Homo sapiens: one gene and its partner. The protein of the gene in region 2 binds, or shares a complex with, the protein of the main gene of each other region. Each region holds a gene or a part of one and is shown on either strand. Other genes may lie near its edges. The genes, in order: MCCC1 and MCCC2.

What was found.
Region 1: the proteins of MCCC2 (region 2) and MCCC1 are in contact, whole or in part, in a cryo-EM structure (PDB 8JXM), measured with the Homo sapiens proteins. Residues at the interface, in NP_071415.1 of Homo sapiens: Leu56, His57, Val60, Glu61, Lys64, Asp88, Ile91, Pro93, Gly94, Ser95, Pro96, Phe97, Leu98, Glu99, Gln102, Ile123, Gly124, Arg125, Gly128, Glu130, Arg234, Trp276, Leu278, His281, His282, His285, Lys298, Lys299, Leu300, Ile304; in NP_064551.3 of Homo sapiens: Glu519, Phe526, His531, Asp532, Phe534, Ser535, Pro536, Phe537, Ser538, Ser539, Ser540, Ser541, Gly542, Arg543, Arg544, Leu545, Asn546, Ile547, Tyr549, Thr550, Arg551, Tyr568, Tyr636, Leu637, Ser641, Glu644.

What each region holds. Positions count from the first base shown.
Region 1 is NC_000003.12:183,089,325-183,096,595, forward strand, and holds part of MCCC1 (methylcrotonoyl-CoA carboxylase subunit alpha, mitochondrial isoform 1 precursor), read right to left. Parts: intron 5,285-7,271; exon of another isoform or gene 5,282-5,284; coding exon 5,235-5,281; intron 3,222-5,234; coding exon 3,085-3,221; intron 1,634-3,084; exon of another isoform or gene 1,612-1,633; intron 1-1,611.
Region 2 is NC_000005.10:71,582,668-71,590,376, reverse strand, and holds the start of MCCC2 (methylcrotonoyl-CoA carboxylase beta chain, mitochondrial isoform 1 precursor), read right to left. Parts: upstream 3,038-7,709; 5' UTR 2,952-3,037; coding exon 2,823-2,951; intron 1-2,822. UniProt on the Homo sapiens protein: Carboxyltransferase subunit of the 3-methylcrotonyl-CoA carboxylase, an enzyme that catalyzes the conversion of 3-methylcrotonyl-CoA to 3-methylglutaconyl-CoA, a critical step for leucine and isovaleric acid catabolism.

The DNA of each region.
Region 1 (7,271 bases), on a different chromosome or scaffold from region 2:
GCTACTTAGGAGGCTGCAGCATTTGGTCAAGCAAGAGGTGATAGTGGGGCTGGGCATGGTGGCTTATGCCTATAATCCCTATAATCCCAGCGCTTTGGGACAACATAGTGAGACATCATCTCTACAAAAAATTTTAAAAATTAGCCGGCTATGGTAGCAAGTGCCTGTAGTCCCAGCTACTCAGGAGGCTGAGGTAGGAGGATTGCTTGAGCCTGGGGGGTTGAGGCTGCAGTGAGCTGTGACTGTGCCACTGCACTCCAGCCTAGCTGACAGAGTGAGACCCTGGCTCAAAAAAAAAGGTGACTGTGGCTTTGAGTTAAGTTATAGGTGGGAGGGGGTGGAAAGAAGTGGAAAGAAATGTTTGGGAAATACAATTAACAGTACTTGGTCATTTACTAGATGAGGGGGGAAGGATCTAGAGTAGGAAAGAAGAGAGAAAAATGCTCAAAGACTTCTAGATCTCTGACATTATTGTTTTTATTAGCAATGGTGTTGTACTCTACGGGGTTAGGGAATTCTGTAAGAAATGCAGGTTCAGTATAGGTGAAAGGTCATGAGTTCAATTTCAGTCACACTAGTTTGGTACCTGTGACAATATTGAAGTGGAGATGTTGAATGGGCAGTTGGATATATATGTATCATGCTCAAAAGAAAGTCTGGACTAAAAATAGAAATTTGGGAGTTTTTCTCAAAGCTATAGGAGTATATAAAATGATCCAGAATGAGAGTGCACACTGAGAAAAGAGGGCCAAGGACCAAGTCCCAAGAAACTTCAACATAAGGGTCTGGTAGATGGGTAGGGTCTGGTAGATGGGTAGGGTCCAGATAAAGGACACTGAGAGAAGACAAGAAGGCAAGAGGCTGAGAATGCCATGAGAAGAATTTATTTCTAAAAGAAGGGAGCAGTGTACTAGGATGCTAAATGCTGCTGAGGGGTCAAGTCAGCTCAGCCCTGGAGACTCCACTGGATTTAGGGACATGGATAGTATCAGTCTAGTAGAGAGTGGTTGAAGACCCATCATTGAAAAATAGAAGATCCTTTTCTTTTTGACACAGGAATGTCTCATTTTGCTTTATGTTTTATTAATACTGTTAACTGACAAATCATAATTGTATGCATTTATGGGGTACAATGTGATGTTTTGCCACATGCACACAATGTGGAATGATTGAATCAAGCCAATTAACCTAGGCATCATCTCACTTACCTAATATTTTTTCATGGTAAGACATTTAAAATTTACTCTCTTATTTTGGGAAAATTCTTTTTTTTTTTTTCTTTGAGACAGAGTTTCGCTCTTGTTGCCCAGGCTGGAGTGCAATGGCACGATCTCAGCTCACTGCAACCTCCGCCTCCCGGGTTCAAGCGATTCTCCTGCCTCAGCCTCCCGAGTAGCTGGGATTACAGGCATGTGACACCACGCCCAGCTAATTTTGTATTTTTAATAGAGACGGGATTTCTCCATGTTGGTCAGGCTGGTCTCGAACCCTGACCTCAGGTGATTCATCTGCCTCGGCTTCCCAAAGTGCTGGAATTACAGGTGTGAGCCACTGCGCCCAGCCGGGAAAATTCTTAAAAAGACAAGAAGAGAAGGGATCCAGAGCACTGACCTTCGATGGGAAAGATGGATGCAGACATAACTAAGTCAGCAGATTCTGTGGCAGGAACCTCAATTTTATTTTCTCTGTGAAATCAAGATCATCCTGCTGCAAAAAGGTGGGTAGAGGGAGAATTGGAGGTTGGAATGAAGCGAAACAAGTTTGAAATACTCATTGCACAGAGTGAGAAAAACAGTGGCTAGAGAGCCACAAGGGCCTGCTGTACAGTGATAAAAGCCCAGGTGAGGCTGCTCATCATGAATTGATGCTAGTGCTTGGAGTCTTACTGCAGGCATAATGAAGTCCAACAGTGGGAGTCACCTATGCTTGGAGTTATTTCTGGTGGATAAAAGCTAGTGATAGGCTGGGCGCAGTGGCTCACGCCTGTAATCCCAGCACTTTGGGAGGCCAAGGTGGGTGGATCACTTGAGGCCAGGAGTTCGAGACCATTTTGGCCAACATGGTGAAATCCTGTCTCTACTAAAAATACAAAAAAGTAGCCAGGCGTGGTGGTGTGTGTCTGTAATCCAGCTACTCAGGAGGCTGAGGCATGAGAATCACTTGAACCTGGAAGGTGGAGGTTGCAGTGAGCCAAGAACACGCCACTACACTCCAGCCTGGGCAACAGAGTGAGACTCTTGTCAAAAACAAAAACAAAACAAAACAAAACAAAACAAAAAAAACTAGTAATAACTCACCCGTAACATTCACAAACTTCAGGGAGTTGGGTCTTATTAGTTATAATTTTACAGATGAAGCAAGGCTCAGAAACATGAAGTGACTTGGCTAAGATCACTCAGCCAGTAAGTAGCAGGTGCTAAGAATAGAGCCTGGATTGGCTAGGCACGGTGGCTCACGCCTGTTTGGCACTTTGGGAGGCCAAGGTGGGCGGATCACGAGGTCAGCAGATTGAGACCATCCTGGCTAACACGGTGAAAACCTGTCTCTACTAAAAATACAAAAAATTAGCCGGTCGTGGTGGAGGGCACCTATAGTTCCAGCTACTCTAGACGTCGAGGCAGGAGAATCGAGGCAGGAGAATCGCTTGAACCTGAGAGGCGGAGCTTGCAGTGAGTCGGGATTGTGCCACTGCTCTCCAGCCTGGGCAACAGAGCGAGACTCAATCTCAAAAAAAAAAGAAAAAAAAAGAATAGAGCCTGGATCTTTCTCCTTGTATATACGGAATCTGGACATGAGCTACTCAAAGTGTAGTCAGTGGATCCGCAACATTCTGTGAACCGTTTTAACCAATCCTCAAGGAGATAAAGACCTTGCCTGTAAATCAACTGTTCTACTAAGCACACCGCTTAGTTCAACTGATGTTATATCTGAAAAATGTTCCCAAGAATTAGCAGTGAGCAGTTTGAACTTACCTACTTCAACCCTGATAACACTAGCAAATATCAACTGTCATCATAAAGAACGAAAATACTGACACAGTAAACGAATAAACGTAAGACGTGGCTTCCAATTTTTAACACATACCATATCTACATGCATGGAATTTCTGTCAGCCTCACTATAAACCGCCACAGTCTGTACACCCAGTTTTTTGGCTGTGCGCATCACCCTGCAGGCAATTTCTCCTCTGTTTGCAATGAGGACCTTGGTAATGTTTCTTCCTGTTTAAAACACCATGAAAATCACACAGAAATGTTACTGGAGAGCAAAGAATGAGAATGAGAATACGATCTTAACTGGCTGATAAGGACTCGACTGATAAGTTCAAGGTTTTTGGTAAAACTAGCATAACTGAGCCCAAAATGACCACTTTAACTAATATTAGACAGTGCACTTCTTTTCTCTTAAATTCAAGGTACTCATTAACATAAATTACTCAGCTTTTTAAACTTAAAATACAAAGCAACATAAAATAAAATTAAAAGATGCTTTGTTATGCCAAGGATCAAATTATAATAGTGTTAAATTATCATCATTAATAACTACTCTTTTATGTATTTATTTATTTACTTATTTATTTATTTTTGAGACAGTGTTTTGCTCTCGTCCCCCAGGTTGGAGTGCAATGGTGTGATCTCGGCTCACTACAACCTCTACCTCCCAGGGTCAAGCAATTCTACTGCTTCAGCCTCCTGAGTAGCTGAAATTACAGGTGCCTGCCACCACGCCTGGCTAATTTTTGTATTTTTAGTAGAGACGGGGTTTCACCACATTGGCCAGGCTGGTCTCGAACTCCTGACCTCAGGTGATCCACCTGCCTTGGCCTCCCGAAGTGCTGGGATTACAGGTGTGAGCCACCACACCCGGCCAATACTAACTAATCTTTAATAAGCACTTTCTGTGCCTCAGGTCCTGTGCTAAAGACTCAACATCGACTTAAATTTTCACAATAATCCTAATGAAATAGATACTATCATTGTTATCTCAATTTTAAAGATGAAGAAACTAATGCTGAAAGAGCTATTATTTTCCCAAAATTACACAGCTAAAGAAACAATCTGGGACTTCAACCTAGATCTGCGTCACTCCAGAATTTAAGCTTTCAGTCACTCTGCTCCTCTGCCTCTATCCCTATGTACATAGGTGTGTGTGGTTCTCTTGCAACACAAGTGACTCTTGTACCAGTCTACTGGCATGGCACCATAATGACAAGCTACTGCATATATAAAATGTACTTCTAATATCACACGTGAAATAAATGTTCTTTGACAGTTCATAATAAAGTTATTTCTTCAATAGAATCCATAGGCTCAACATAATAAAGTTATTTCTCCTTTTAAAAAAAAAAAGGTTGCACCTAATTTAAAAGTGTTTTTCGATGGGGCTCTATGGAGCCCAAGAGTTGTCACAGGGGCTGATGGATGACATATGTATGAGTGTGGGCAGGGGAAGGAGAGCACAGTAGGTAGAGGGCTATATCCAATCAGCTAGAAGTTATACTTTATTACACTTTTATATGTTTCATAGTTGGGAATTCCATGTTAAATTTTATTTGGAAAAAAAGGTTTTGCTACTTAAAATAGCTTTTTCAAAGAACTGCTTTAGACCATCGTAGTTATGATTTTCCAATCCAATACACTAAGAGGGTCAAATGGACAGAAAGAACAAACGAATATAAAATGTTCTCCATTATTGCCCTCTGTATTTTATTTATTTATTTTTACTTTTTTTTTTTTTTTTTTGAGACGAAGTCTTGCTCTGTCGCCCAGGCTGGAGTGCAGTGGCGAGATCTTGGCTCATTGCAACCTGCGCCTCCTGGGTTCAAGCAATTCTCCTGCCTCAGCCTCCCAAGCATCTGGGATTACAGGCACCCGCCACCACGCCCAGCTAATTTTTGTATTTTTTAGTAGACACAGGGTTTTGCCATGTTGTCCAGGCTGGTCTCGAACTCCTGACCTCAGGTGATCCACCCACCTCAGCCTCCCAAAGTGCTGGGATACAGGCATGAGCCACTGCGCCCGGCTGCCCTCTGTATTTTAGACTTAACAGCAAGAGAGATTTGATACAAAAGAGGTGAAAACCATGACTTAACACTTCCTAGAAAATTATCGTGAAAATCCAAAATTTATGATAACTAATTCTATTATGCATATATTAAGGGATTAAACATTTCCCTTTCTTAAACACTTCCAGTCTGAAGCAAAATCAAATAGAACAACAAAGTCTGTCAGTACCTGTGGCTGTTGTGTACTTCATGGTTCTTTGCCTCCACACCCATGTCCTATAACATAAATCCAAAAGGAATTACAATTAAACAGAATAGGCAACACAATTGTTCTTTCAAAAGAATTTCAGTTTCTTAAAACATGAAACCTTAAGCCAACTAACAGTGCTTTAGTAAGACTTTCTTAGTGGGTAGAAAACTAATCTAGAACTCAAGAGTTAGAGTTCTGGCTGTTTTCCCTCGTACTACCTGTCCTTGAATGAGTCACCTAGCCTGCTTGTTCCTGAGGCTGGCATAAGACCACAGTCAGAGATGATTAAACAACCAAGGTATACCAACATCATCTAGTTTAGCTTTTTTGAAACCTTTTTGGCTACAACTCACAATACAAACTACCCAGGACACACACTTAATGAAAACAGATGTTTTGTTAAAAATGACTCATTCTGCCCTGGCCAGGCACGGTGGCTCACACCTGTAATCCCAGCACTTTGGGAAGCCGAGGCAAGCAGATCATGAGGTCAGGAGATTGAGGCCATCCTGGCTAACACGGTGAAACCCTGTCTCTACTGAAAACACAAAAAATTAGCCGGGCGTCATGGCGGGCACCTGTAGTCCCAGCTACTCGGGAGGCTGAGGCAGGAGAATGGCGTGAACCCAGGAGGCAGAGCTTGCAGTGAGCCGAGACTGGGCCACTGCACTCCAGCCTGGGTGACAGAGCGAGACTCCGTCTCAAAAAAAAAAACAAAAACAAAAAGAACAAAACTCTTTTGGTTCTTTCAGTTGTATCCTATTTTATTAAAATATGCTGGTCAATCTACAGTTTGAAAAATACCAATCAAGTTTAAACATGAGACATGTTTAAAAAGTAAGACCAGAGAAATAAACGGAAGTTAAACAGGGGCAACAGAAAGAATGTTGGCTGTGGGACCAGAAAAGCTGCATTCTCATCCGAGTCCCTCCAATGACCAGCTTGCCCAGGGTCGAGTCACTTTACATCAGTGTTTCTCCAACTTTTTTTTCATTATTACTCTCCTAATGAGAAAACTTTTAAAAGATTTTATTCCTTGTAGGAAGGGTGGGGTAAGGTTGAGCTTTGGAAAGCCGTAAACCATGACAAAATCTAAGATTTCCTGGCTCTCCTAAGAATCAATTTCCACCCTTTAGCGGTGGTATCATCCCAGTTGAGGATGCAAGATTTAATAGCTTGGGCTTCAGTGTTCTCACACACGAGATGAGACTATAAGAGGTGATCTTGAAGGTACCTCTCAGATTTAAAAGTACTATACAATTCTATTCCAAGTCCTTGTATTTAAAAAAATGGAGAAATGGGGAGACAAAATGACTTGAGGTATTTTAATGAGGTAGAAGTCTCAACAATTTTTAAGTTTCGTGATACCTGTGTATAAAATAAAGTAACCAAGAGCTGACAGAAAACAGGCCAGATTCACTTTAGGAACAAAAAAGTATAACGTCTATTAAGTTTCAGCTAAAGAGGATAAGTGGGCTGGGTGCAGTGGCTCACGCCTGTAATCCTAGCAATTTGAGAGGCTGAGGTGGGGGGATTACCTGAGGTCAGGAGTTCGAGACCAGCCTGGCCAACATGGTGAAACCCCATCTCTACTAACAATACAAAAATTAGCCAGGTGTGGTGGTGCGCACCTGTAATCTCAGCTACTTGGGAGGCTGAGGCAGGAGTATCACTTGAACTTGGGAGGTGGAGGTTGCAGTGAGCCAAGATCGTGCCACTACATTCCAGCCTGGGTGACAGAGTGAGACTCCATCTCAAAAAAAAAAATAAATAAATAAATAAAAAGCATATGCAGGGAAACAAACAAATTACAGAAGCAATTCCACCTATCTTTTTGTCTATACCTGGAAGATGTGGTTATAAAGGACTAACTAACCATTTTAGATTATTCACAAAGCACAAGATAAAAGCACAGCGTGTGCATTAGAAACTATGTAACTAGGCAGTAGTATATACATATTATGTATATGACTATGTAGTTGAGCAGGACTAGTATTTCACTGGAGCGGAGATGCA
Region 2 (7,709 bases):
CTACAGACTGGGCAACATCTGTGCCAAGCTCAGCCCATCAGACTTAAATCACAGAAGAGCCAGTACTGGCTACAGTTCACCTCCCAGGCAATCCTTTATCAACCAACCTAGCCTCCTTAGGATGAGACTCACTAACCAAGAGGCAGTGTAGTTTAGTGGCAAAACCAAGTTCAACTTTCAGTTTCCCTACTTACTGATACTGCATTTGGCAAATCTTGATCTCTCAGGACGCCAGGTGTTTGTGTTTGTGTGTGTGTGTGTGTGTGTTTTAATCACCTGCGAAACAACATTCTACAACCTAGTAATTTTCTTGTGAAGCTGAGCAACCACAGAGGTTAGTGCCTGACAGTCATAATGAATTGGAGCTGAGCCACTGACAAGTTTCCCACCCCATCTTTTCAACCATAGAACCCACCTAGGTAGAGCTGGGTGAGTGAGAAGCATTATAGAGCAACAGTTAAGACCCTGGACTCAAGAGTTATGAGCCAGACCACCTGGCTTCAAATTCAGGCTCTGTGTTATCTCAGACAAATTTCTTGGACCCTATATACCACAGTTTTCCCATCTATAAAACAGAAATAACAATTGTACCTACTGCACAGGATCATTATGATAAATACATGAGTAAAACCACATAAAGCCTTTAGAAAAATGGTGGGTACACTATAAAATTCCTGCCATTATTATTACTTATTATAGTTGCTTTTATTTGTAATCAGGAAACACAGCTAAACTGGATCATTCATCCCATTCTCCCCCACCCTCATGGACTTGCTTTGTCTAATGTGAGCACACATTAATTTCATCACATGCCAGCAAGGATTTTAAATCCAATTTGTGTTCAGCCTCTTGCTCCTGTGCCTTCGGCCATGAGAAGGGCATGTTTAATTCAGGGCTGCTCTTCAGCCTCAGTCCAGGAATGGGAAGACACATGGAGCAGACCTGAACCTACCCTGCAGTGGAACAGTCACAGCAGCAGCTAACCAAAGGCCACCAACACGAGTGAGAGATTAAGAAACAAAACAAAATCAAGTGAGAGACTAATATTTACTGTTGTGAGTTACTGAGATTTTTTGATTATTTGTTACACAAAGCGCAACCTAGCAAAAGGTGATTCATACAAAACCCATCACCAAAGCCTTCTTTGTATTAATGGCAGTTCCACCTAACTAAATATTCTGCCCAGTTGGAAACTCCAAAGTCATCCATTTTCCCCTTCCACTCAGTTATTAACTCTATAATCTTTGCTCCTCAGGTATTTATGCCCCCCTCCTACATACAACTCTAACTTTGACTCCTTCATCTCAAGACTCAACTCTCCACTGTCACCTAGGTCTAGTCTTTTCCCTATATCAATCCATCCTCCACATTGCCACCACACTGATGATTCTACCATATCCATAGGATCATGCCACTTATCTACTTAAATATTTTAATGGACAACCTGCCAAATGGAATCTAAATGTGGCTTTTGCATGGAAGATCCTCCTCTATCTGGCCCCATAATCAATCAATCCCATCACCAGACACTATTCAATGAATTCCATGTCCTAGACATGGAATTCAAGTCCTCACACCAGATATACACTTTCATAACTCAGTACCTATGTTCTTGTAACTCTCTTGGTTTATACAGTCTTACCTTCCATCCTGCACCCTGAACTTGGCCAGCTCTTACCCAAGATTCATCTCACCCATTACTTCCTATCGGTAGCTTTCTGTAACCACCTTCTCAAGCTTTAGACAACCCTTCTTACACTGTACCACAGTTACCTGCTTTCTTGTCCATCTTCCCTACAAAATTATTAGTTCCATTCCTACGCATCCATGCCAAATATCTAAAATAGTGCCTAGACCACAATAACCACTTAATAATTCTGAATTAAACATTCTGGACTGACAAACAATTGTGTGTTGTTTGCACTATTTAGATGTTATCTGTATAGGCTTAGAAATCGTGGGAACACAGTGAAATTTTCCAGCTCTGATATTTCGCAAGTTTTGAGTTTTTTGGCCTTATGATGCCTCCTAATTCCAAGAAAAGCCACTCAAAGATACTGTGGGATATTTTCTATTAACATAACCAACTTTTTTTTTTTTTTTTTTTTGAGACAGAGTTCGCTCTTGTTGCCAAGGCTGGAGTGCAATGGCACGATCTCAGCTCACTGCAACCTCCGCCTCCCAAGTTCAAGCGATTCCCCTGCCTCAGCCTCCCAGGTAGCTGGGATTACAGGCGCGCGCCACCATGCCCGGCTAATTTTTGTATTCTTAGTAGAGATGGGGTTTCACCACGTTGGCCAGGCTGTTCTCGAACTCCTGATCTCAGGTAATCCACCCGCCAGGGCCTCCCAAAGCGCTGGGATTACAGGCGTGAGCCACTGGGCTCGGCCATCATAATCAACTTTTAAACTCAAATTTCCTAAGCACAGCGCCCCTCGTTGGGCTGCTCTAGGCCAGTGGTTCCCAAAGCTGGCTGCCAAAAGTCCCCTAATGAGTTCACTAACAATATAAACACAGCGACTCCACCTGAGACCCACAAGGTCCAGAGTAGGGCTCAGGCAGCTATTCAGCTAGCTCCCCAGGTGGCAATTCTAAACCAGGCTTTAAGAACCACTGATTTCAAAGACACAAAGTACAGTGCCAGCTCTAAAAGTGAACTAAACTTTCTTGTATCTGTTAGGCTTTTCTTCTTCAAACTTCACGTGCGTCACAGAATCAACTGGGGCTCCGGACAAGAGAGCAGCAGTTGTTGAAGCGTGCCCCTCCTCCACTTGCTTCCTAGCCTGGCACCGGCGGCCAGGCCACCGGGGCGCTCAGCCTACCTGGTAGAGGGCAGAGCCCAAGTCCGGCTGGGTGCCCAGCGAGGCCACCGAGTCCCCGTGATAGGCGCGCGGCCCGGCGGGAGAGGCGCGGGCACACGGCCGCAGGGCTAACCTCAGGACGGCCCACATGGCGGCGGGCACCGAGCGAGAGAGCGGCCCACGCTGGCCTGGAGCCGGTGCTTTCCCCTGCCGCTTCCCTGGCTGGGGCGGAAGCTGAGCTCAGGTCCTTGCAGCCCCAGAGAAGGTTTCTCTGATTCTCAGGCCTGTCCACACACGTGCCTAAGCGCGCCGCCCGCGATTGGTCAAGCCGCGCCACGCCCCCTGACCCAGCCAATAAGGGACAGAGCCTCAGCCCCGCGAGGTCGCGTCTAGTCCCGAGCGCAGGAGAGCAGGTCTCCCCGGCGGATCGACCCTCACGAAGCGGTGCGGCAGTGAGAGAGCTGCGGTTGGGCTTGGATTGGTGTTGTGTTGACACAGCGATAGATAATATCACGATAGTGACTGTACCTAAGGCAGGAGAATAAGTCTGGAAGCAGGGAACCTAAGGCTGTCTCACGCTGACTTCCTAGAGCTAAACTGAAAGGAAAACCCTAACTTTCCATGCCTAAGTAACAAAAGGACCAAAGGCTACTCCCTTTGCAAACCCCCCCACCTTTTCCGCAGGGCAGATAGGAAATTGGCTGTCCCCGACAAATCAGACTTACTGCTGGTGGAGGCTTGCTTTGCCAAGTTTGAACCTTAACTCCAGCCTCTGAATGGTTGCTGTCCACAACCAATCAGACTGATTGGGGGTCCAGTCTTCGTTTGCATAGAAGTATAACTTTGTAATTTCACCCTAGCCTCTGACTGCTTGCTTCTTGCAACCAATCGGGTTTGAGGTGAGCATAAAATGGCCAATAGGAAACTTCTAGTGGGTATTTGGACCCAAGAAGATTCTATATCCGGGCCCTTGAGCTCTGCTCGGTCCGCTCCCACATTGTGGAGTGCACTTTCGTTTTCGGTAAATCCCTGCTTTCGTTCTTTCGTTGCCTTGTTCTTTCTTTGCTTTGCTGGGCGTTTTGTCCAATTCTTTGTTCACAATGCCAAGAACCTGGACAACTTGCAGTCACAACCCCCAGTGACACACCAACAACATGAGTGAATCGCATCTAACACGTGCTTGCGAACAGCACAACAAGCCTGTTGTCCTTTCACTGGAGACCTTAAACATTCTTCTGATTATTTTCGCTATGTAGTTATTTTTATTTTTTACTTTATTTCATTTTTTGAGACAGGGCCTCACTCTGTCGCCCAGGCTGCAATGCAGTGGCACGATCACAGCTCGCTGAATCCTTGACCTCCCACCTCAGCCTTTCCAGTAGCTGAGACTACAGGTTTGTGCCACCAAGCCCGGCTAATTTTTTATTTTTGTAGGGGTTTCACCATGTTGGCTATGCTGGTCTTGAACTCCTGGACTCAAGCGATCTGCCCGCCACAGCCTCCCAAAGTGCTGGGATTACAGACATGAGCCACCACACCAGGCACTATGTAGTGACAGATTGTGGACATCAGCACTGTGGTCTTAAATAAAGGACTCCAAATATACCCATAAAAATTAAAACATTCTATACAAAATGCCTTGAACTTAAGGTTTTTCATTCACATATTTATTGAGCACTTACTACTTCTACTCCATTGGTTGCTTAGTGGGGCAGAGTAAAGGGGGAGGATGGGGTAGAGAAAGGGTGCGTCTACACCTGGAGGTAAACTTAGGTTCAGACTTCAAGGTACTTATAAGAAAATAATACAAATGGCCACATGATTTCTTACTGAACTGTGTAGGACAGACATTAAAGGAACAGAATGCAATTGGGAAAGGGTTGCAGCTGAGCCTTGCAGAAGCGTTGAGAGTGGACTGAGCAATGAACATGGCCAGGCTTTGTGCAAATGGAGGAGAGCATGAGCTAAACTGCAAAGGTATGATTTACACTGTGCTTGCCTCCCATGGTCAACAGAAAAAAAGGCCAGTAAAAACTGACTTTTCATATGTATCAGGGTATCAGAAGAGAGGGTTTGATATTTTAATTGCCACACTTTATTTTTCTCTAAATAGTTCTTCAATGATGCAAAGTACTTAAAATCACCACCCGAAGACAGAAAAGACACAATAGGATATGATTCCTTGCTTTCTTTAAAAGTCATACCTGTTTTGGCCGGGTGCAGTGGCTCATGCCTATCATCCTAGCACTTTGGAAGGCCAAGGCAGGTGGATTATCTGAGGTCAGAAGTTTGAGAGCAGCCTGGCCAACATGGTGGAACCTCATCTCTACTAAGAATACAAAAATTAGCCAGGCATAGTATCACGTGCCTGTAATCCCAGCTACCTGGGAGGCTGAGGCAGGAGAATCGCTGGAACCCGAGAGGCAGAGTCTGCAGTGAGCCGACATGGCACCACTGCACTCCAGCCTGGGTGACAGAGCAAGACTCTGTCTCAAAAAAAAAAAAAAAAAAAGTCATACATGTTTCTTATTTCTTGTAACTTTTGTTACAAGAAGCTCTTTGGAAATGTATAATGTTCCCAGAACAGCTAAGTAGAAAAATGCAAAAGGTGAAGTGCAAATGCACAGAAGGCCAAAAGCAGTCACCTAGCATCTGTTAGTGTCCAGTGTCTCTCTACCCCACTATTGAGATTACAAGGAACATAATCTTTGCCATCTCTGATTTTTTAAAATAATGTTTTATTGAGGCCAGGAACTTGAAACTAGCCTAGGCAACATAGTGAGCCCATGTCTCTGAAAAATAAAAATAGCCATGCACAGTGGCATGTGCTTGTAGTCCTAGCTACTTGGAGGGTGAGGTGAGAGAATCACTTGAGTCCAGGAGTTTGAGGCTGCAGTGGGCCATGATCTTGCCAAGCACTTCAGCCTGAGTGACAAGAGCTAGACCCTGTCTCTAAAAAAAACAATAAAAATAAAATAAAAATAAAGTAAAATAATGTTTTTATTTTATTTATTTATTTATTTATTTTTCTGAGAGGGAGTCTCGCTCTGTCGCCCAGGCTGGAGTGCAGTGGCACGATCTCGGCTCACTGCAAGCTCCGCCTCCCGGGTTCATGCCATTCTCCTGCCTCAGCCTCCCGAGTAGCTGGGACTACAGGTGCCCGCCACCACACCTGGCTAATTTTTCATATTTTTAGTAGAAACCGGGTTTCACCGTGTTAGCCAGGATGGTCTCGATCTCCTGACCTCGTGATCCACCCACCTCGGCCTCCCAAAGTGCTGGGATTACAGGCGTGAGCCACCGCGCCTGGCCAAAATAATGTTTTATATAATAAAAATAAGAGAATTAATTGAAAAATGTAACCGCCAGGGCTGATCTCTGCAGCCTGGTGCGCTGCCTTTCATCTCACCCTCAGTTCCTTCCCATGCATTGCTCATTCCCATTGGCTGCCATCTTCCACTTGCTCTCCTTCCTTTATCCGCACCGTTCCCTCTGCCCAGGGCATCTTTCCACGACCAGACTTGTCCGTTCCATCTTCTCCACCTGGTGAGCCCATACACATCCTTTAGGACTTGGCTCAGGAATCTCCTACTCCAGAAGCCCTCCCTGACCCCACCTCATTACCTCTTTCTCCCTTCAACAGGCCTCTATTGTGGCTCGGGTCAGCACTTGTTGTTAGGGCTCATTTAGTTTCTCCAACTTGGGGTCTTGTCAGTGTCATCATTTATGGCCTATGCTGGGCATATTACAGACGCTAAATTTGTTGAATGAATACATAAAAAATAACTGCTCTGGAATCAGAGCAAGGAGACATTCCAGGACACCTAAGGGAGGGTTATTTAAAGGCCAGGCAAGAAGCTGGGAGGTCAGGATGAGCAGTTAGACCTGGCAGGCTCTCCTTTGCTATCAAGTCTCTTCTGTAGAAACTTAATGACCTTACCTGGGATATCACATGGTATTACTTTGGTTGTACTCTATTGGATTCAAGGGGAGGGGACATAGACCCCACCACTCAATGGAAGGAGTGTCAAGGCCACTGGCAGAAAAGATGAGAGACATTGTGTGACTATCTTTGGAAAACATGACTGACATGCCAGCACATGCACTCATGTTTATACATTTATCCCAATCCAACCTTATATTTGTTTTCCTTGGCGTAACAATCCATTTCCATATTCCCTAACTCTTGCCAATACACACTGGCAAGAAACTATCTCTTTCTGGGCCACGTTCAGTACTTTTTGGTTTGCACTGGAATAACTAACTTCTGTTAAGATCCAGAGGCAAGGAGGCAGGGTAGGATCAGTCCCTTACAAGAACTAGCATCAGCTCATAAGGCAACTGCCCCAGATGAAGCGACTAAGTGCCTTTTACACAGGGAAAGGCTGGTCAGGAATGGGGAGTGGATATGAGGGTAGGTTGCCTCCACTCTGAGAAAAGCTCAAGGGGATTTGGGCATTTGAGAGTCTGGGTCTTGACCACATCTGCCCAAATGTGTCCATCCTATTTCTCAGCTTTCCATTCCTTCCTGTGTAGTGTCCTTATATCATACTGTACCTTTCATTGACCCTTCAACTCCCTTCTTGTCAAATCCTGGCTTGATTCTCGGCCAAACTGCCCTGCATCTACAGAAGATAATAGACTCCAAGCTGTGATAAAGGCTTTTTTACTTTTCACTATTATAAGAATCTACTCAAGGTAAATAAAATTACGTGTGCATACAAAAACTTGAACAAAAATATTTATAACAGCTTTATTTGTAATACACAAAATCTCTAAACAACCCAAATGTCCATTAACAGATGAATGAATAAGCAAATTATGGTAAATCCATATGACACAATACTGCCTGCAATAAAAATGATGTAGGGCACGGTAGCTCACACCTACAATCCCAGCTACTTGGGA